Regions from separate parts of the Homo sapiens genome. Here region 2 is linked to region 1. Evidence: fine-mapped expression QTL. A gene starts in region 1. The other region holds a variant in brackets. All regions are shown on one strand. Distances are from middle to middle.

Region 1 (11,778 bases):
TGTTCATAGATCACTGCAACCTTGAACTCCTGGGCTCAAGCAATCCTCCTGCATCAGCCTCCTAAATAGCCTGGCTAATTTTTAAATTTACTTATTTTTGTGGAGACAAGGTCTTGGTATTTTGCTCAGGCTGGTCTTGAACTCCTGTCCTTAAGTGATCCTCCCACCTCAGCATCCCAAAGTGCTGGGATTACAGGTGTGAGCCACTACAACGGGCCCATTTTTAAAAATGTAGTATGTGGGCCAGTTGTGGTGGCTTACGCCTGTAATCCCAGCATTTTTGGAGTACTTTCAAACCACGAGGTCAGGAGTTTGAGACCAGCCCGGCCAACATGGTGAAACCTTGTCTCTACTAAAAATACAAAAATTAGCCGGGCGTAGTGGCACACACCTGTAATCCCAGCTACTTGGGAGGCTGAGGCAGGAGGATCACTTGAGCCCAACAGACAGAGGTTGCAGTGAGCTGAGATTACGCTACTGCACTCCAGCCTGGGCAACACAGCGAGACTCCGTCTCAAAAAAAAAAATGCAGTATGTGTGTATATGTGTGGAGTGGGAGTGTGTATACATATGTGGTGGCTGGTTGGTGTTTGGTGGTGGGAGTGTGTGTGGGTGTGAGGAGAAATGGGAATATATGTTGGGGGTGGGAGACTGACATCGTGTACATGTGGAGCAGGAGGAGGGTGTATGTTATGATGGGAGTACTGACGGGGAGATGACAGTGTGTCAAGAGTGTAAGAGGGGTGAGTGTGCACCTGATGCTGGTGGGAATGGAGGGGAAAGTTCTGTGAATGATGGGTAGCAGGTGAAGACATGCCAAGTGTTTGTGGTAAGTGAAGCTGAGCATATCTGTTGGGAACCAAGGCAAGTATGTGGAGATGTTTTTGTGACAGGAGGAAAGGGATGTACTGACATGAAGCGAATACGTGTACCGAAAAATCTGGAAGAACATACATTACCCCTTATAGACTTGTCGAATGGCTCAGCTATAATTTTAAAACCTTATTAGGGAAAGGCTCACTGAACACAATATTCATGTAATAACTTTAGATTCACTGAGGATCTCAAAAGATGGACATCTTCAATCACTGAATCTTTGCAGCAAAATAAACATGTTTTAAAGTTGTATTTCCCTTTTTATATCGTCCTGCTATAAAATGGTTGCTGTAAAATAGCCTTCATTTTACACAGGTGTGATGAATTATAGCTATTTCTTCAGTGAAACAAAATGTTTAGCTGAAAAGTGATCTTAAGAGAAAAACACTGCCAGATAACCTCCTGAACCCCATTTCAAGATTTTCTAAAAAAAAATTTTTTGAGAAACAGGGTCTCACTCTATCACCAGGCTGGAGTGCGGTGGGACGATCATGGCTTACTGCAGCCTCAACCTGCTGAGCTCAAGCGATGTCCCACCTTAGCCGCTGGGTGGCCACCTTAGTGCTGGGACCACAGGCGTGTGCCACCATGCCTGGCTAATTTTTAAAAGTTTGGGTGGAGATTGGGTCTATGTTGCCCAAGCTGGTCTCAAAATCTTGGCTTCAGGCAATCCTCCCTAAGTGCTGGGATTACAAGTGTGAGCCAAATCTGGTATCTAAATTTTTTTTTTTTTTTTTTTGAGATGGAGTCTCACTCTGTTGCCCAGGCTGCAGTGCAATGGCGCAATCTCGGCTCACTGCAACTTCCGCCTCCCAAAGCGATTCTCCTGACTCAGCTTCCCAAGTAGCGGGAATTACAGGCACGCACCACCACACCCGGCTAATTTTTGTATTTTTAGTAGAGACGGCGAGGTGGCTCACGCCTGTAATCCCAGCACTTTGGGAGGCCGAGGTGGGTGGATCACTTGAGGTGAGGAGTTCCAGACCAGCCTGACCAACATGGTGAAACCCGTCTCTACTAAAAAAATACAAAATTAGCTAGGCGTGGTGGCGCATGTCTGTAATCCCAGCTACTCAGGAGGCTGAAGCAGGAGAATCACTTGAACCCGGGAGGCAGAGGTTGCAGTGAGCCGAGATCGCTCCATTGCACTCCAGGCTGGGCAACAGAGCAAGACCCTCTCTGCCCGATAAAAATAAAAAATTTTAAAAATTAAAAAACAAAACAAAAAACTGTTAAGATGACAGCAAGAGGGGAAGGAAAAAAAGGACCTGCCATTTAAATTCACATAGTATCATACAAAGCTTAAAATAAATGGTTTGATTTAATGACAAAGTCTTCATAAGAAAAAAGGACAGTTTACTTAGGCTAAAAATGTTTATACATGCCAGAAAAATGAGAAGACAACAGAATTTTTAAAATATTTTAATTTGTATATATAACTTCAAATTTAGAACACTCAGTATGAACAAGAACTATTCTCTGACAAAGATGTGAAATGGGGGAGTGAATTACTGTACAGGTGCATATCAACCTCTCCATGCAATTTACATCTGTATCTTATGCAATGAGAAACTGGTTTACACAGCTCCGTAACTGCAGTATTTTTTAACACCCCATTTTGCAGTCTCAGAATACTTTTCAATTAAACTGGTCGACATGTTTAAAGATGAGAAATAAGATGTTTGCATTGTAAAGTTGAGTAATAGCTAATAAATGCACACTTCCTTCCATTAATATAAATCTGGAACAATTTATGGTAAACAAAAATCTATCCGCGTTATCAGTAATCTAACAGTGCATACTTTTACTGAACACTTCCTGTGAGCCAGGCCTCGTAGTAAACATCTGAACATGCAATTTCACATTCAGTGTGGAATAAGAAGTGTCATAGGTTCGCGTGTTTTTCACAACTGATTATGATGTCCATGATGACAGCGTGCACTAAGCGCTGTGTCCAACCAACCCTTTACCTGGCATTTTAGCCAGCAAGACCCGCTTGCATTGCAGTCGTTCACGGTGCTCGCTGGCACAATTTTAGAATGTTACATGAATACTCAGGCCTGACTAACCTTCCCCTCCAAAAAACAACAAAACAGAACAAGGCTAAGCCTTTACTACTCAGAGACACATCTGTAAGACCCCACAGGGACAAGAAAAGTAGCTGTGATCTAGGTCTGCACTAAAGCTGCCTTTCCTGGCACTCAGAAGTGCCCTTCCAGGCCTAACTGCAGAAGGGTGGCCTCAGCCTCCTCCTCCTCCTCCTTGGCTTCCTCCTCACGGATCTGCACCAGCAACTGAAAGAGGTTTGGGGCTGGCCCTTCCCCAGCCCCGGTAAGCCACAGCTGCCTTCGGATGGCCCCGCTGTGGTTGGCCCCGGCAATGACCTGCTCTAGGCGGGCCTGGTTCACATTATCTTTATCAATGGCCCCCTTCTCTACCACCTTCTGTAGCAGAGGCTCCAGACGAATGACATAAGCAGACAATTTTTCTCCCGGGTTCTGATAAGTGTTCAGAAATTTGATCTGGGCATCCCTAGAGCTCTCAACGCTCCCAAACACCTGCTCAAGCGCCTTCAGGCATTCGGCAGTGGTTATCGCGGGGTTGTTGGACTTAAGGATGCGAATAACATCAGCGGCGGGGCCTCTAAGACTCTCCATCAACCGCCGCCTCTTTTCTACATCGGACACCTGCCACTCCTCTAGGACCTCATTAGTGTGCTCCAGCCAGGGATCAAAGGTTTCCTCTCCAGGCCCTGGGATGTCCCTCCCCGAGAAAAGTGTCAGCCTCTTGTACCATATGGACTCAACAAGAGGCTGAATAACATTATCCAAAATATAGTTTAGCATCTCTGCTGGCATCTCTGGGCCCGGGGTCGGAGTAGGGTTCTGAAACCCAAGGACACGGGCAACATCTTGCACGGTCCACCCCTCTCTAGCTAGGAAGAGGTGCAATCTTTCTAAAAATTCAGCATCAGAAGTTGGGGGCTTAAATAACACTTTCCAGACCCCTCCTTTGCCCGGCATCTCCCTGGGGATCGCGGCGTAATCTACAGCGCCAGTGAGCTCTAATAAGGCTGCTTTCGCATTTTCTTCCCTCCAGAACATTCTCCCAAGCATTCGGTAGGAGACCTGGGGCATCGCAGCCTGGAGGGTCTCTTCGATTTCAGCCTCATCACAGTTCACTGGGATGCCCCAGACTAACAGAGCTCTCTGGGAGTTCACATCCATCCCCCGGCACCAGTCTTCCAACAGTGTCATCGCCATTTTCTCAACTATCAAGACGCCAAATTCTACCAACAGACTGTGGCTCACCGTGCTCCTGGCCTTAGAACAATACCAGACACTCCCACCAAGTAGGCCCGAGGGAGGCGACCTTCATGCAGTCACGATTAACAAAGACAGAGTCCTGATCTCGCCCTTCTCTGCCCCCACAGTCAGTCCGTAGGTGCACTCGGAGCCGAGCTCGGGGACGCTGAGGCAGTCACGCGGCCGTCGCCATCTTGCGTCTGGGTCTGGGTCCGGTCGGGTCCGCCGCCTGCAGCAGGGGCGTCGCGTCGTCGTGCAGCGGGCGAGGAGCGACGGCGGGCGGCGAAGGCAGGCGCGCTGGGCCGAGAGCCGCCGGGGTGTGGTCGCGGGGCGTGGCCGCCGGGCGCTCGCTGCGGCTCCTGGAGAGGATCGGGCGTTCGCGGTCGCAGCCTGGTCTTCCCGCGGGCGAGGAGCGGCCGTTTGGGAGACTAGCCAGAGGGAGAAACTGTGCCGAAGTCGCGGCGGCTGCGGGCCAGCGGAAAGCGGCTTCTTGGCGGGCGCGGGGACTCCTCTGGGCGGGCGGCGAGGACGGCCGAGGACCAGAAACGAAGGCAGCAGAGGAGCAGGAAAGTCGGAGAAGCGAGGCTGGAGACAGCAGAGGCGAGGGTGGGAAGGGGCGGCCGCGGCGGCCCGCAGCGGTTCAGGCGCTGCGCGGCTGCTCTGGCGTCCAGTCCTACCCGCAACCCGCCGCGACGTTACTGCTGCAGTGGAGGATGGGGCCAGCCGGCGAGCGGCGTCCGCCCCGCCCCGCCCCGTCCCGCCCCCGCGGCGGAGCTGCTCGGGCGTCTCCATGGCAACGGTGTCCCAGCCGGCGCGAGGCACGCCTGCTCCGGCGGCTCGCGGGGGTCGAGCGGTTGCCGTGGAGCCAGCGAGGGGCTCGGGCATTTGTTTCTCTGATGGCGCATTTCCTTTTTCATAATTTAGCATTTTAACAGTAAACAACTACTACTAAGCACCGTGTTTTAAAAATAATAACCCAATCCTGGAGTGGATTTAAGATGATATTGTTGGAAATGCATCCCTCATGGTGGACTTGTCTACTCGGGTTGCTCAGCCAGTCCACCCTGCACGTGAAAATACTCTCCTCAGAACCCTGGCTTCCCGTTGCCCCTGACCACACTGTGCACCCTGCATATTTCATCCCAATGAAGCCAAAATGTCGGAGTGCGCCATTTCTGTGTATTTGTGTGAGACACTGAGTTTAGACTTTTTCTTGTCTAAAATTTTGTAAAAATCTGTCTGTGTCTACTGAGTCATCTTTTAGCCAGGCAAACATTAGTGTATTATTTTCCTTTTCCTGGCTGGCATCATTGACAATAGGCTGCTAAAAGAGAATCCTTATGGTTCAAAAATGTCGAGTAATCTCCCTGCAAGCAAGACAAGGCGCACTTACATCAACCCCAGATGGTGAAAATCCCAAGAGAACAAAGCATTCAACTCTGAATTTTTAAAACCTTATTTAATAAAAGGTTTAAAGATACAGAAGAACATTCAAAAGTAAATAAGTTACATAGGTACATTACAATCACATCAGCAAGATTCTTTAGTGTATTAATTTTTTTCTTATAAAAAGCACACAAAAAATAAAATCTTCAGTCTCTATCACAACTGTACAGCAAAAGAGGTAATATTTATATATGTACACTATTTTAATATGTAACAGTCTTTTTAAAAAAGGATGCCACAGGCAGCAAACACACAAAAGGCAGTGTCTGATCATTTTTGTTTCAAAATAAAAGGAATATACTTATTTATATGCTATTAAAATATCTGTACAATAATTACAGACTGTCAAGGCTGTTCCTGTGCTCTGTCCCCTCCAACAAAGCCTTCAACTTAGAGACAAATGAGGAAAAAGTGAAACAGCTGCAAATTGTTAGAAGCAAATATTAACATAGCAAAATGTGGGGAGGACACAATTGTTTTATAAAAATATCCCTACTTCCTGTAAACCTATGGAGTTAGGCTTGCCAGTCTGATAATAAATACCGTCCCAGAAAAGCGAGCCCCAGTGAAAACAACTAAACAGGCTGAGGCTTGAGTATGTGTTGTATTCCTCCTTCATCTTAACATCTGGCACATGAGAAGAAAGAGGTTAGGTCACTGAGGCAGTTAAATATAGGTGATCCCTTTAGACATAAGCAGCAGAAGACCTTGGTGCCAGGGGTGGAGGCGCGGCAGAAGGGGTGGTATGTACCTTAGCTGTGAGGGGGGCTGCTGAAGGCATGGAGGACAGTAATGACGGCTGTGCCTCCTTGGATGGTGGAGACCTCAGAAATGGTCTGCAACACAGGCACTAGGTCAGTTTCCCGCCCTTAGCTGAATGCAGATGGATGCTGGGAGATGGATATGGTGAGATGGTGTGGGGAGGATGTTAGAAAGCTGGAGGTGTTTATCACTTCTCAAGGAGCTCTGAATATAGGGGGAAAAAAACAACAAAAAGACAAGCCCAGGGAGAAAGCACCATTAAGGATATACCTATGCCAGCTTCTATAGCTGCACCTGCTTTATTGGCAGGTCACTTGCCACAATTGCATCTGCCCTCTAAACTTTTTAATTTTCACACTGTATCCTAGACATGAATGCATAAAATACAGTGTCTGGCGGGATAATGCAGAGAGGTACCATCTTGATTTTCCCCAGTTACATTCACCTGGTCTGGTCTCTGTAAGCTTAGAAGAGTAGAATCACTTTATTTTTTAAAGACTTCCGGCCAGGCACGGTGGTTCACGCCTGTAATGCCAGCACTTTGGGAGGCCGAGGCGGGTGGACCACCTGAGGTCAGGAGTTCAAGACCAGCCTGGCCGACATGGCGAAACCCTGTCTCTACTAAAAAAAAAAATACAAAAAGATTAGCTGGGTGTGGTGGTGTGTGCCTATAATCCCAGCTACTCAGGAGGCTGAGGCAGGAGAATTCTTTTAACCCAAGAGGCGGAGGTTGCAGTGAGCCAAGATCACACCACTGCACTCCAGCCTGGGCGACAGAATGAGACTCTGTCTCAAAAAAAAAAAAAAAAAAAAAAAAAAATTTTTTTTCCAAGTACAAGATGTTACCACTGACAAAAGGGTCTCATATGAATGATGGAGGTTTCTGTTACCGTATGCCCATAAAGGGGCCTGAAACCAAATATGATTTGAATAGAAAAGACCTTGGGAAACATAAGTAGCACTTTGGGGCTAAGCTGCGAAGGCACTCGTATTGTACAAGTAATTTCGAAGAGAGCCTAAATTTGCTACCCCCCTGCTTCTACAGGGTATACCAGATTTTTGCTGTCTTGGGACACTGAGCTCATGGAAGCCTGTGGAGGAAACTAACCGGTAAGCTGGGGATCTAGGTAGTCATCCAAGAGTCTGGAGGGAGAAGAAATTTGTTACTTCCACAGCTGGGGTCCTGTAGAACCATACTAATGTACAAATGGATGCTGAAAAATACCTGCATAGTTTCAAAACAAAACTCCCTCTCCACTCCCAGTTACTGACATGATGCTTCTTGGCTATCTCATAAGGAGTAGCAGTATGAATACTTTCTGGCTCCTTCCTAATACGTTGACCTGTCATACGCGCATTCACTTAGAATTTCTTTTGCACAACTAAAGTTGAATAAGATCAGAAAAATAGCTGAGCCCCGCTATGGGACTGGAAGTGAAGGGGCCTCCAGAACCTCCTGGCCCTTTCACTTCACCCATGCCAAATATGGCTTCTTCAAGCCAGAATCCAGGCCCCATAAACCAAACTAGAATTCTGGCCTCTTGCCAACTCTTCCCTCAGGCAAAGCACAGCCAGAGAAGGGGCAGCAAGAACTGCCTTAATCTCCCTTGCTCTGTGTGGGTCTGGTGACACCCTCCACCTTCCCACGCTCTTTCAGTGTTGCTATCATTCCTATCAGCAAGAGCTTCCAGAGCAACCAGGTGAGGGACCTTAGGGCCTTGGGAATTTAGGGGGTGGGGATAGGGGATGTCAAGATGCCTCGTTTTGGGATAAATGCACTCGGGCCTCTGAAAAGCAGGAGGCCCCTGGTCCCTGAGAGGATGTTAAAAATTAAATACTAAGAATAAATAAATAGCTCCCAAATGACACGAGTCAAGGAATGAAGGCTCCTGTCCAATCGAGTTAGGAGACCTCTCCCTCCCAGGGAAGGATCCAGAAATCTCCAAAGTGCAGGCCTGGGGGCTGGGTTGTGGATATCGACACTGGGTAGGGTGCGGTGGGGTTAGGTGTAGCTGCTGAGGTCAGAGCAGAGGCAAGGAGGCTGGCCCCAGGAGGGGCAGGCTGAGCCTCTCCGGGACCTGCTCAAGGCGAAGCGCCCTTGGCAGCCTCCAGGACCCAAAGGTATTCAGCCAAAAAGGTGGGAAGCAGGAAGAGCCAGGCTTGTCAAAAGCTCTCTCGGGCCTAACCCTGCAGCTTCCAGCCTCCGTACAGCTCCCTTCCCTGCAGCAGGATGAGTGCTTTGGACAAGAACGCTAGCCCCTCCCCCAACGCTGAGAAAACTTTCTAGCCCTAGCAAGGCCGCCAGCAAGCAGCAAAGGGAGAGTACCTGCCGCGGCCTCCCTCCCAAGGAGGAGGTGGCCACTCAGGACACGGTCACGGGAGCAGCTCAGACAGGCCTAGAGACTGCAGGGACAGCACAGGTGTCAGGCTGCGCCCCTTCTCAGAGAAGCCCGCAGACTCCCTCCAAGAGTTTCTTTTTCTGGGGCTTGGGGCAGGGCCGTTGCAGCCTTCGAGGTCCTCTGGGGAGGAGAAATGCTGCTCCAAAGTGGGTGAGCTTGTGCTTGGCCGGCCACGGTGGCTTCCTGGAGGCCGAGGGGAGGAGGGGGAAGCAAATAAAGGGAAAAGACTGCGGGGCAGCAGAGCAGCAGAAATCGGAGTGTGAGAGGCGGTGGAGTCCCTCCCGAGGGGACCGGGACTCTCCCGGTCCAGGAAAGCACGAGGACAGCTTCCGACAGACCAAATGCAAAGAGAGCTGGATCCTGGAGCCCTTAACGCTGCTCCCAGGGCCTTCATAAATAAAAGAGCCGTTTATGTCATTGTCTCATTTGTTTCGCAGGGAAAAGTCCCTGCAATCCTCTCCTCACTCCCTCTTGAGATGCCAGGGTGTCTGCGGGCGCTGGCGGCGGTGCGGGAAGGGCCGAGGCCCAGGACTGGGCCAGCCTGGCTCCCGCGCTCAGCCCTTGTCGCCCGCACCGCTCTCCTCCCGCAGGGCCTGCTGGTGGGCGGCGGCGGCGGCAGCAGCGGCCTCTTTCTCCTTCAGCCTCAGCGCTGCAGCCTTCTTCTCCTGCTCTGCGTGGCTCTTCATATGCGCACTGCGGCTCTTCACCTTGTAAAACACCCTGCAGCCGGGTGGGGGTTGCTCAGAACCGGCCTAGCCCACCCGGGGGCCCCCAGCGCGGGTGCGCGAGGAGCCCCAGCCTTCACCTTCACCCCCACGCTGCACAGCCGCGGCCGGCCAGCTCGCGTCATTTTCCGAAAGCTGCCCCATGACGTCACAGCCCTAGAAACCCGCTGAGCCAACCAGAAACGAGGCGGACACCGCCTGTACCTCTTCCCCCTCCCCTCCACCCCACCCCCGCCCCCTCCGCGCACCAGCCCGCGGGGGTCCCAGCGGGGACAGCGCTGCCCACCTTACCTGCCACATTTTTTACAGGGGAAAGTGTTCTCCTGATTCTGGGTCTTACTGAATGTCTCTGTTTTTTTCTTCTTCTCTGAAAAAGGTAGTGCCCTTCGTGACTTCCCTGTCCCTTCCCTTGGCTTCTCCGAGGCCTGGCCACCGGCAGACCCAGGGGCGTTGGACTCGTGGCTCCGGAGGATGAGGATGTCACTGGCCTGAAGAAAATCAAACAAGGAGAGTTGAGTGATCTGAGCAAGCGCAGATCTGGAATTCTAAAATCGCAGGGAACCGGGGGCCTGAAAAGTCATATATATTCCTGCCAAACAGTCACCTAGCATGCACTTGGGTCCTTCCAGGGATATGACGACCATTGCCTCCTCCAACTCTGCATCTCTGGTCAGCTCTATCGTTTACAAAGTTGCTGCTAGAGTAATTCTGTGGGGCAGCCCGAGCTGCTAGAGGCCTTGATGCGCCTGACAGGGGATCTTGGTCTCTGGGTTAATGAAGCACCTACCTGTTGATGTTTTCTGTCATTTAGTCCGCTCATGCCCTGTTCTATAAATGAGATTCAGGCCCCTGTGATGGGCCAGATGCTAGGGACAAAGAGGTTGACACAGGCATCCCTGCCCTCAGAGCTGAGGATCTGGTGGAAGGGACAGATGCGCAGGTAGCTACTTCAGGACAGCGCACTGCAGGGACACCAAACAGGGCAAGGGCAGGGGTCAGAGTGCAGAGCAGAGGGAGCAGAGGTGACCTCGGCTGGGGAAGCCCCGGGTGGCCATCAGAAGTGGCACCCTCATGGGAAAGTTCACAAAAGTCAACAGAACTCTGTAGAGCGCTACACAGAGCACAGCTCTTGGTGCAGGTGGTCGAGGCTCAGAAGTGGGCACACAGCCGTGTGTTTACAGTTTATGGGAGCTCTGTAAGCATGAGTGTACTACACACATTCCTTTTTTTTTTTTTTTTTTTTGAGATGGAGTCTTGCTATGTCACCCAGGCTGGAGTGCAGTGGCATGATCTTGGCTCACTGCAACCTCCGCCTCCTCCACCTCCTGGGTTCAAGTGATTCTCCTGCCTCAGCCTCTGGAGTAGCTGGGATTACAGGCGTGCACCACCATGCCCAGCTAGTTTTTGTATTTTTAATAGAGATGAGGTTTCACCTTGTTGGCCAGGCTGGTCTCGACTCCTGACCTCAGGTGATCCACTCACCTTGGCCTCCCAAAGTGCTGGGATTACAGGTGTGAGCCACTGCGCCCGGCCTACTACATACATTTCTAAAAAAAAAGACTCTAAAAAAGCAGCAGCTCCCCAATAAACCCCTTCCCCTCCTTACCCCTTTCTGGGAGAACTCTCCCTGGCAAGGAGCAACTATGGCCAGTAGTCTTGTTTCTTGGCCTGTGATATGGTGGACAGAGCACTGCACTAGGAGTCCAAGGACCTGGGGCAAGTCACTTAGCATCTCTGAACTGCTTTCCCCCATCTGCAGAGTAGAGGTTAACTCTGCAGTGTGAGGAACTAATGAGATAATGGAAATGAAAGCACTTTGCAGAGATCATGCCTGAGGGCCTATGATTGTCATTCCCATGGTCTCAGCTCAGTCTCATTCTTGTCAGGGACTCTGGCTCTCTTAGGGGAGCCCTGTCTGCAAACCACCAATGCTCCCTCAGTGACCCACATACCTACTGGGTTTTCACAAAACCTTTTTCCCTCTGAATCTCAGATACAGAAGCAGTAGAGTATAAAAATTAATCGCAGACTCTGGATTCAGGCTGCCTACTAGCTGTGTTATCTTGGGCCACAATTTCCCCATCTATAAAATGGGAATAACAGTAATACCTAACCACATAGGGTAGTGAGGATTAAATGAGTTAACAGCACAAAGTACTTCACACATTTCCTGCTATTATGATTATAATGAGGATCACAGTCCTGCTCTACCCTCCCTCCCACGCCCCCAGGCCCAGCTCCACCCTGCTTGCCCTGGGCTCAGCC
Region 2 (11,778 bases), 30 kb before region 1:
GCCGTGCTGGTCTGGACTCCTGACCTTGTGATCCGCCTGCCTCACCCTCCCAAAGTGCTGGGATTACAGGCGTGAGCCACCGTGCCCGGCCAAGACTTTTGTTTTTATACTTGTTGGTTTTTTTAAATCTTGTGTACATTTTTAATACTCTTTCTGTTAAAATACTGATTATTTTCTCCTTAAAAAATGCAAACAGAAAAATGCACTCATGTTTGTAGTAGCATTATTTATAATAGCCAAAAGGTGGAAGCAACCTAAGTGTTCACTGAGAGATAATTGGATAAACAAACAAAAAAGAAGCTAATGAAGTAGAGGGGAAGGGCAGAAGGAAAGGGGAGGCAGAGAAGAGGAAGAAGCAGAAGACTTAAGTCATGTTAGTCAGACCCTGGCAATCTGATCACAGTTTCCACATTGAAATTTAATGCAGTTTTCAAAACTGATATATTTTCTCTTAGTTTGTTTCTTGTCTTTTTACCTTATTCGTGGTTACCAAATGGTATTTAAAAATTTTTGTTAGTCAAATCTTTATGGTTTCAGTGTTTTGTATTTTACATAGAAGGTCTTAGGTACTAGATTGTAAAAATAGTCTTATCTTCTTAATTAAAAATTTTAAGTCTATACTCTTAATTCATCTGGAGTTTATTTTTACATGTGTCATGAGGCGCAGGTATCATGTCTTTTTTTTTTTTCTTTAATTGGTTAGCCATTTATTGAAAAGTCTCTTTTTCCTACTGTTTGTAAATGCCACCTGCTAAACTCCTGGATATGCATGGGTAGGTTCCTGGATGGTCAGTTTCTTTCTGTTTGTTGTTCTTTCTATAAATTTCAGCTTCAATATCATGCTGCTTTAATTTTCTTTAACTTTAGAATTTATTTTGATATCAAGAAAAATCCTCTCTCCTTTTTCAAAATATTTGTGGGCATTTACTCTTCAGAGAAACTTGAGAATCATTTTATCAAATTATCTTAATATATCTTGCAAATTATTCCACTTCAGCACATACAGGTAAGTTCCACCTTGTTTTCCTCAATGCATAGTATTAATATATTTAGCTAGGCCACGGCTGACGGACACTTAGGTTGTTGCAATCTTTTGTACAAGCTGTGTTGCTCCACCATCTTTGTCCATGTATGAAAAAACTCCTAAATATTACATTTGTGAATTGATTTGGAGAGAAGTTATAGCTTTATAATAATGAATCTTATGAGAAGACGTATTCATATTTTTTATGTCCTTCAGTAGAATTCCATAGTTTTAATTCCTATAAGACCTTGTATATTTCATGTATAAAGATTTATTTCTGAGTAATTCTTAAATTGACACATTATAATTATACTTATTCATGGGGTACAATGCTATGTTTTGATACATATATATACGTTGTGTAATGATCAAACCAAGGTGATTAGCATATCAATCACTCAAACATTATTTATTTATAGTGAGAACATTAAAAATCTTCTCTTCTAGCTATTTTGAAATACAGTCATGCATCACATAATGACTGGGATATATTCTGAGAAATGCAACATTAGGCAATCGTTGTTGTGTGAACATCATAGAGTGTGCTTACACAAACCTAGATGGTATAGCCTACTACATACATAGGCTATATGGTTTAGCCTATTGCTCCTAGGCGACAAACCTGCTCAGCATATCACTGTACTGAGTGCTGCAGGCAGTTGGAACACAATGGTAAGTATTTGTATATCTAAACATAGAAAAAGTACAGTAAAAATACAGTGTAAAATATAAGAAATGATACAGGTGTATAGAGCATTTATCATAAATGGAGCTTGCAGGACTGCAAGTTTTTCTGGATGAGTCAGTGAGTGACTGATGAGTGAATGTGAAGGCCTAGGACATTACCGTACACAACTGTAGATTTTTTGTTGTTGTTGTTATTTGTTGTTGTTGGGTTTGTTGTTTTTTTGCTTTTTTTTTTTTTGAGACGGAGTCTCACTCTGTCACTGAGGCTGGAGTGCAGTGGCACCCTGTCGGCTCACTGCAACCTCCGTCTCCTGGGTTCAAGCAATTCTCTTGCCTCAGCCTCCTGAATAGCTGGGATTACAGGAGCCCACCACCATGCCCGGCTAGTTTTTATATTTTTTACTAGAGATGGGGTTTCACCATGTTGGCCAGGCTGGTCTCAAACTCCTGACCTCAGGTAATCCACCCGATTCGGCCTCCCAAAGTGCTGGGATTACAGGCATGAGCCACCGCACCCGGTGATTTTATAAAACACTGTACACAGGCTACACTTAATTTATAAACAATGTTTTAGCTGGGCACAGTGGCTCACATCTGTAATGCCAGCACTTGAGGAGGCTGAGGCGGTGGGATCACTTAAGGCCAGTAGTTGGAATCAAGCATGGACAACATAGCGAGACCCCATCTCTACCAAAAAAAAAAAAAAAAAAAAAAAAAAAAATATATATATATATATATATATTAGTTGGGTGTGGTGATGCACACTGTAGTCCTAGGTATCAGGAAACTGAGGATTGCTTGAGCCCAGGAGTTAGAGTTTGCAGTGAGCTCTGATCACACCACTGCACTCCAGCCTGGACAACAGAGCAAGACGCTGCCTCTAAATAAATGAATAAATAAATAAAAATAATATGTTTAGCTGGGCATGGTGGCTCACGCCTGTAATCCCAGCACTTTGGGAGACTGACGCAGGTGGATCACCTCAGGTTGGGAGTTCGAGATCAGCCTGACCAACATGGAGAAACCCCATCTCTATTGAAAATACAAAATTAGCCAGGCGTGGTGGTGCATGCCTATAATTCCAGTTACTTGGAAGGCTGAGGCAGGAGAATCACTTGAACCTGGGAGGCAGAGGTTGCAGTGAGCCGAGATCGCACCTTTGTACTCCAGCCTGGGCAACAAGAGCAAAACTCTGTCTCAAAAATAATAATATTGTTTTTATTTCTTCAATAAGAAATTAACCTTAGCTTACTGTAACTTTTTTTTTTTTTTTTTGAGATGGAGTCTCGCTCTGTTGCCCAGGCTAGAGTGCAGTGGCTCAATCTCAGTTCACTGCAACCTCTGCCTCCCAGGTTCAAGTGATTCTCCTGCCTCAGCCTCCCGAGTAGCTGGGATCACAGGTGCTCACCACCATGCCTGGCTAATTTTTTTTTTTTTTTTTTTTTTTGTATTTTTAGTACAGATAGGGTTTCACTGTGTTGGCTAGGCTAGTCTCGAACTCCTGGCCTCAAGTGATCTGCCCGCCTTGGCCTCCCAAAGTGCTGGGATTACAGGCATGAGCCACTGCGCCCGGCCAACTTTTTTAATGTTAAAAACTTTTCAATATTTTTTTAACTTTTTGACTTTTTTGTAATAACAGCTGGAAACACACATTGTATAGTAGTATAAAAATATTTTCTTTCTTTATTTCATTATTCTATAAGCTTTCTATAAGCTTTTTTCTATCTTTAAATTTTTAAATCTTTTTTACACATTTTTGTTAAAAATGAAGACACAAACACATACATTAGCCTAGGCCTACCCAGAGTCAATATCACTGTCTTCCACCTCCACATCTTGTCCCACTGGAAAGTCTTCAGGGGCAGTAACACACATGGAGCCACCATTTCGTATGACAACAGTGCCTTCTTTCTAGAATACCTCCTTAAGGACCTGTCTGAGGCTGTTTTATAGTTATTTTTTTTTTTTTTTTTTTTTTTTTAGTTGGAGTTTCGCTCTTGTTGCCCAGGCCAGAGTGCAATGGCACAATCTCGGCTCACCGCAACCTCCACCTCCTGGGTTCAAGCGATTCTTCTGCCTCAGCCTTCCGAGTAGCTGGGATTAGAGGCGTGCATCACCACGCCCAGCTAATGTTGTATTTTTAGTAGAGACAGGGTTTCTCCATGTTGGTCAGGCTGGTCTCGAACTCCCTACCTTAGGTGATCCGCCTGCCTCGGCCTCCCAAAGTGCTGGGATTACAGGCGTGAGCCACCGCGCCCAGCCTACAGTTAGCTTTTTTTTAATAAGTAGAAGGGGTATATCTTAAATAACTATAAAAAGTATAGTAAACACATAAACCAGTAATATTGTCATTTACTATCATTATTATGTACTATACATAAGTGTATGTGTTATGCGTGTGTATGGCTGGTGGCTCAGTAGGTTTGTTTACACTAGTATCACCACAAACTTGAATGCCTTGTGCTACCACATTATGACTGCTGGGATATCACTAGGCAATAGGAATTTTTCAGCCCTATTATAATCTTATGGGACCACCATTGTATATAGAGTCAATCATTGATGAAATGTTATGCATTGCATGACTGTATATATTATTGTTAACTATAGTTAACCTGCTGTGCAATAGAACACCAGAGCTTATTCTCCTACATAATTGTAACTTGGTACTCATTTACCAACTTATTCCCATCCTCCCCTCAGCCCCCCACCCCCCTCTCCAGTCTCTGGTAACTACTGTTCTGCTCTCTACTTCCATGAGATCAGCTTTTTTTATTTATTTATTTATTATTATTATTATTATTCTTTTGAGAATAACAAGTTCACTCTTGTTACCCAGGCTGGAGTGCCATGGTGTGATCTCAGCTCACTGCAACCTCCACCTTCCAGGTTCAAGCGATTCTCTTGCCTCTTCCTCCCAGGTAGCTGGGATTACAGGTGCCCACCACCACACCTGGCTAATTTTATATGTTTAGTAGAGACGGGGTTTCACCATGTTGGTCAGGCTGGTCTCAAACTCCTGGCCTCAAGTGATCCACCTACCTCGGCCTCCCAAAGTGCTGGGATTACAGGCGTGAGCCACCGCACCTGGCCGAGATCAACTTTTTTAGATTCCACATATGAGTGAGATCATGCAGTGTCATTCTGTGTCTGATGTGTCACTTAACATAATGTTCTCCAGGTTCATTCACATTGTAACAAATGACAGGATTTCATGCTTTTTTATGGCTGAATAGTATTCCATTGTGTGATATACCATATTTTCTTTATACATTCATTCATTATTGGACACTTAGGTTGATTCCATATTTTGGCTATTGTGAATAGTGCTGCAGTAAACATGGGAGTGCTGATAGCTATCTCTTCGACATACTGTTTTCATTTCTTTTGGCTATATACCCTGTAGTGAGATTGCTGAATCATATGGTAGTTCTATTTTTAATTTCCTGGGTAATTTATAGTTTTTGTTGCTATGATGCATTTCTCTTTAACACCCTTCCTGTTTATATTAAATAATATAAAAGCCATTTATTTTTGTATACTTAACATGTAATCAACTACCTACCAACAATTCTTAACTGTTTATAAATCACATCCCCACAACAATTTTCAAGCAACATTGTGTTACCTGGATTCATTACTTTATACAGAGCAATAATCATCATCATCATCCTCATTACATATAGTCTAAAATAGAGGTCAGCTGGGCATGGTGGCTCACGCCTATAGTCCTAGCACTTTGGGAGGTCGAGGCAGGATTGCTTGAGGCCAGGAGTTTGAGACCAGCCTAGACAACATAGTGAGACTCTTGTCTCTACAAAAAAAAATTTTTTTAAATTAGCCAAGCATGGTGGCACGTGCCTGTTCTAACTACTCAGGGGGCTGAGGCAGGAGGATCACTTGAGCCCAGGAGTTCAAGGCTGCAGTGACCTGATTGTGCCCTGTACTGCAGCCTGCGTAACAGATCGAGACTCTGTCTCTAAACTAAAAAACAAACTAAAAAAATAGATTTTATGGCATTTCATAAAGCTCTCCCACTTCTGTAACCTCCAACATGATATTATTTACAGAGTAGACATTTACTTTTTTGTTTTCAATACTTACAATGGTTTGTTGACCTTAAAAAATCATAAATTTTAATAGCTGAGAGGAACCTTAAAGAACTTGTCCAACTTCCTCATTTTTTCCAATGTTTTTTATGGTGGTGAAATATACATAACATAAAGTTTACCATCTAAAACATTTTTAAGTGTATAGTTCAGTGGTAGTAAGTAGACTTGCACAACCATCACCATCCATCTCCAGAACTCTCTTCATCTTGTGTGTCTGAACCTCTGTAAGCATACAGTAGCTTCCTACTGCCTCTTCCCTGATCCCTGGCACCCACCATTCCACTTTCCGTCTTTACGAATTTAACTACTCTAGGTATTTCATATAAGTAGTATCATACAGCATTTATCTTTTTGTGACTGGCTTATTTAACTTAGCGTAATATCCTCAAGTTTCATCCATGTTGTAGCGTGTGTCAGAATTTCCTTTCTGCTTAATTTTTTTTTTTTTTTTTGAGACTGAGTCTCACTGTATCGCTGAGGCTGGAGTGCAGTTGC[G/A]CAATTTTGGCTCGTTCCAACCTCTACCTCCCAGGTTCAAGTGATTCTTCTGCCTCAGCCGCCAAAGTAGCTGGGACTACAGGCATGTGCCACCATGCCCGGCTAATTTTTTTATATTTTTATTAGAGATGGGATTTCACCATGTTGGCCAGGCTGGTCTCAAACTCCTGACCTAAGGTGAGCCGCCCGCCTTGGCTTCCCAAAGTATTGGGATTACAGATGTGAGCCACTGCACCCAGCCCATTCCTGCTTAATGTTAAATGATATTCTATTACGGTATGTATATACCATGTTTTGTTTATCCGTTTGTCTATCAGTGGACACTTGGGTCACGTCCATCTTTTGGCTATTGTGAATTTGCTACTGTGAACATGGGCGTACCAATATCTCGAGATCCCACTTTCATTTCTTCTGAATATGTGCCCCGAAGTGGAATGGCTGGATCCCCTGTTAAGTGATATCAATTATCATATGATAATTAATTTTTTAAGGAACGGCCAAATTGTTTTCCATAGCAGCTGCACCATTTTACCTCCCTGCCAACCGTGTACAAGGTTCCAATTTCTCCACATCCTCACTAATACTTACTATTTTCTGTGATTTTGATAGTAGCTATCCTAATGGGTATGAGATGGTATTTCATTGCGCCAGTCTCCTCATTTTACAGAGTAAGAAACTGAGGGGAGAAATGGCTTGTTTACATGCAGAAGCTGACCAGTTTGCTAAATGACTGTTCAGTTATTGTCCAATTCTCGAAAGAGTCAGCTTATTTAATGACAGATTTCACTGAATTGATTCACTCAAACTTTGCCAGGTTTTCCTCATTGATATTCACTAGACTGCTTCACAAAAATCTTGTCTTTATTATCTACTTAACAAATACTTACAGGAAATTGTATTATTGGCTGGGCACAGTGGCTCATGCCTTAATCCAGCACTTTGGGAGGCCGAGGCGGGCAGATCCCTTGAGTCCAGGAGTTCAAGACCAGCCTGGACAACATCTCTACAAAACCCATCTCTACCAAAAAGACAAAAATTAGCCAGATGTGGTAGTGTGCACCTGTAGTCCCAGCTACTAGGGAGGCTGAGGTGAGAGGATTGCTTGAGCCCGGGGGAGGTTGAGGCTGCAGTTAGCTGTGAGTGTGACACTGCACCCCAGTCTGGGTGACAGAGTGAGACCCTGTCTCAAAACAAAACAAAAAACAACTTTTTTATGTTTGAAAATCATCATAATAAATGTTGGAGAAGACCCTGAATTTTAGACCTAGCTCTATTATTTAATAGTGTGTTCTTAGAAAAAGCCCTTAATCCCTCTGTAATAGAAATCAAATAACCTGCCTTATCGGCTTTAAAGCAGATGTTCTAAGGACCAAATAATATACTCTATAGGAATGTAATTTGAAAACCGTACCATTAATGAACGAGATAAGATAGTGCCATTATTTCCCCTCTTGGTGATTTCAGTATTAGTAACGTATTATGTTTTGTGATTTTTTTTTTTTTTTAGTGGAGCAGTCAGAGAAGGAAGAGTTCAGATTAGTTTGAAGAAGGGAATGGAATGTTCTACTTAGCTCCCTCAATGAGAAAAAAAAAACCTCCCACACAACTACTAGCTCTTCTACAAGTAGACAGGCAGGGTCTAAGTTCACTTTGGAAGCCATTATGTATATCTTTATAAAGAAGAAGACAGAAAGAAAAGCTTAAACATAAACATAAATCAAATTTTGTTCTTTTTCAGGAGGCAGTAGGGGACACATTAGAAGAACTGTGGATCTCCTACAATTTTATTGAGAAGTTGAAAGGGATCCACATAATGAAGAAATTGAAGATTCTCTACATGTCTAATAACCTGGTAAAAGACTGGGGTAAGCTGAGAGTGGCCCTTTGCTAACCTTCTACCGCCTGTTTATAGAAAATAGTCCGAGAGGGAAAAGATGCAAAACGAGAACGTTTATTTCTAAGCACAGAGAGAAAGTGGAAACATTTATGGCTAAGCTCAGAGAGAAACAGCAATAGGAGTTTCTAAATTTTAAATGCTTAACATTTATATTTAAATATTTACTTAGGATGGACCGGGCGCGGTGGCTCACGCCTGTAATCCCAGAACTTTGGGAGGCCGAGGCGGGTGGATCACGAGGTCAGGAGATCGAGACCATCCTGGCTAACACGGTGAAACCCCGTCTCTACTAAAAATACAAAAAAATTAGCCGGGCGTCGTGGCGGGCGCCTGTAGTCCCAGCTACTCGGGAGGCTGAGGCAGGAAAATGGCGTGAACCCGGGAGGCGGAGCTTGCAGTGAGCCGAGATCGCGCCGCTGCACTCCAGCCAGGGCAGCAGAGCAAGACTCCGTCTCAAATACCTAACGTTAAATGACGACTTAATGGGCACAGCATACCAACATGGCACATGTATACATACGTAACAAACCTGCACGTTGTACACATATGCCCTAAAACTTAAAGTATAATAAAAATAAAAAATAAAAAAGTGAAAGAACTTGAAAAAAAAAATTAGGATGAACGTAATCTGATAGGTCCTGGTCCTATTAATCATGAAAAAAATTTAAGCTATTATCCAAAGGCTGAAGTAATCAGTTTAAATTTAATACTTCAAAGGTAGAAGACTTATTTGATATCTATGTTACTTTGCTTTTTTATTGTATATAATTCATTCAGTTATATGCGATGAACTATACCAGTCTCTTTGGATACATAGTTGAATAGGACATTATCCCTGCCCTCAAGAAGTTCACAGCTTAGTGGGGAAAATTAGTTTGTAAGCTGATAATTATAAAACTGTGTGATAAGAGGCCAGGTGCAGTGGCTCTTGCTGGTAATCCCAACAATTAGGGAGGCCAAGGCGGGCAGATCACCTGAGGTCAGGAGTTTGAGACTAGCCTGGCCAACATAGCAAAACCCAAATTTTTTTTTGTAAAAATACAAAAATACAAAAACATAGCCAGGTGTGGTGGTACATGCCTGTAGTCCAAGCTACTTGGGAGGCTGAGGCATGAGAGTTGCTTTAACCCAGGAGACAGAGGTTGCAGCGAGTGGAGATGAAGCCATTGCACTCCAGCCTGGGTGACAGAAGGAGACTCTTTCTCAAAACAAAAAAAAGCAAAACTGTGTGATAAGTTCTGCAATACAGATTTGAATGTGTTGTTTTAAGAATTCAAAGATGAGGGAATGGGTACAGACAAAGGCAGGTTAGCTTAACCTACACTGATGCAGCACAGCATGAAGAAGACCTGTCACTGGAGAGTGATTTGTTCTTTTTGACTTTGAATCTCATCTCGTCTTATTTCATCCTTATGCTAGCATTTAAAGTAGAGAGGTATGTCTTCTTTTTCCCTCCCATCCTGTACTGTCTTCTGAGAATGACTTTATATGGTATAACTTTCCTAGCTTCCTTCAAAATCTTAAACAACTGATTGTCATGAATAGTCACAAACTGAGGGTTAATGATATTGGAATTTAATCCCCAAAATTGTAACAGTAAAACTTGCTGTTTTTTTTTTTTTTTTTTTTTTTTTGAGACAGAGTCGTGCTCTGTCGCTCAGTCTGGAGTGCATTGGTGCAATCTCTGCTCACTGCAACCTCCGTCTCCCGGGTTCAAGCAGTTCTCCTGCCTCAGCCTCCTGAGTAGCTGGGACTACAGGTGCCCACCACTATGCCTGGCTTATTTTTGTATTTTTAGTAGAGATGGGGTTTCACTGTGTTAGCCAGGATGGTCTCGATCTCCTGATGTCGTGATCCGCCCGCCTTGTCCCCCCAAAGTTCTGGGATTACAGGCGTGGACCACCGCACCCGGCCAAAACTTAGTGTTTTAATATGGAAAATATTCTTTTACTTGTAGCTGAGTTTGTGAAGCTGGCAGAACTGCCATGCCTCGAAGACCTGGTGTTTGTAGGCAATCCCTTGGAAGAGAAACATTCTGCTGAGAATAACTGGATTGAAGAAGCAACCAAGAGAGTGCCCAAACTGAAAAAGCTGGATGGTGAGTGATTCTGAGCTGGCTTAGACATATCTTCTAGGCATAAAAATGGAATTTGTGGCATGGAATCATGAAGAGGAGAAAAACTAAAGAAAAAATACCTCTGATCTTCCAGGTCATTTCTATCTATGTAAAATTGAATGGTCTAGGTTTGAGCCAAGGTGAGATGAAAAACTGCTAGGATATTTAGACTGGTACAAGATTCTCCCTAGACCAAAAGCTTATAAGAAAGCTAGGCCTGGCCGGGCATGGGTGGCTCACGCCTGTAATCCTAGCACTTTGGGAGGCTGAGGCGGGTGGATCACCGAAGGTCAGGAGTCTGAGACCAGCCTGGCCAACATGGTGAAACCCCATCTCTACTAAAAATATAAAAATTAGCCAGGCGTGGTGGCGGGCACCTGTAATCCCAGCTACTCGGGAGGCTGAGGCAGGAGAATCACTTGAACTCGGCAGGCGGAGGTTGCAGTGAGCTGAGATTGTGCCATTGCACTCCAGCCTGGGCAAAAAAGAGTGAAATTCCGTCTCAAAAAAAAAAAAAAGAAAAGAAAAGAAAGCTAGGCCTTATAAATCTACATGGAGCCAGTCACAGTGGCACGTTTCTGTAGTCAAGCTATTCAATGAGGCAAGAAGATTGCTTGAGGTCAGGAGTTTGAGACCAGCCTTTGCAATATAGTGAGAAAAACCCTGTATTTATTTTTAAAAAATTGTATATTTATTTTTTCCTGATATAAATTTCCTTCTGCTATGTTGGATTAAAGCTGGAATTATTCAGGGTTTGGTGCTGAGCCTCCTCCTTTTCTCACTCTTCCCTGTATCACAAGGAGGACACCCATGCAAGCAGTAAGAGAGAAGGAGCCTGGCCAGGTGCGGTGGCTCATGCCTGTAATCCTAGCACTTGGGGAGGCCAAGGCGGGCAGATCACCTGAGGTTGGGAGTTCGAGACCAGCCTGACCAACATGGAGAAACCCCATCTCTACTAAAAATACAAAATTAGCCGGATGTGGTGGTGCATGCCTGTAACCCCATCTACTCGGGAGGCTGAGGCAGGAGAATCGCTTGAATCCGGGAGGCGGAGGTTGTGGTGAGCCATGATTGTGCCACTACACTCCAGCCTAGGCAACAAGAGCGAAACTCCGTCTCAAAAAAAAAAAAAAGAGAAGGATCCTGACTTCCAGACAACATAAAGTTCCATGTCTATCTACTATCTACTTGTACTTTTATGTAAAAGAAAAATAAACTTCTAGCTCATTTAAGCAAGTTTAAAAAATAAAGAAAGTTAGGCTTATTCTCAAGTCAGAAAGGTAACACAAAGGTCACAAATTTTGATCAGAATCAAAAATTATTCTGATTCTGCAGAATAATTAGAAATACATGGTAAGCAGTTGCTTTTTTACAATTGGATCAAAATTGTGGTATTCTCTCTGTTTCTCCCCTCATCCCCAGTCTTAGTTTCCCAATATCTTAAGAT

Evidence for each region. PIP is the estimated chance that this variant, and not a neighbour inherited with it, causes the effect.
Region 2: its variant is fine-mapped to the expression of PNMA1 in whole blood (TOPMed, PIP 0.97).

Annotation. Positions count from the first base shown.
Region 1 is chr14:73,709,501-73,721,278 of GRCh38, forward strand. PNMA1 (PNMA family member 1) reads right to left here and starts at 4,884. Exons shown (of 1, transcript NM_006029.5): 1 at 2,283-4,884. The coding sequence starts at 4,139. The coding sequence ends at 3,078. MIDEAS (mitotic deacetylase associated SANT domain protein) reads right to left here. Exons shown (of 13, transcript NM_001367710.1): 12 at 9,805-10,001; 13 at 5,622-9,508. The coding sequence ends at 9,343. RefSeq lists enhancers at 4,280-4,339, 5,280-5,349, 9,315-9,925 and silencers at 4,430-4,599, 4,780-5,059.
Region 2 is chr14:73,679,203-73,690,980 of GRCh38, forward strand. DNAL1 (dynein axonemal light chain 1) reads left to right here. Exons shown (of 8, transcript NM_031427.4): 6 at 8,057-8,183; 7 at 10,173-10,313. Among named protein-coding and RNA genes, the nearest start is that of PNMA1, 29 kb to the right of the region's middle. RefSeq lists an enhancer at 6,326-6,495. The variant G/A (reference allele first, on the strand shown) is at 6,319.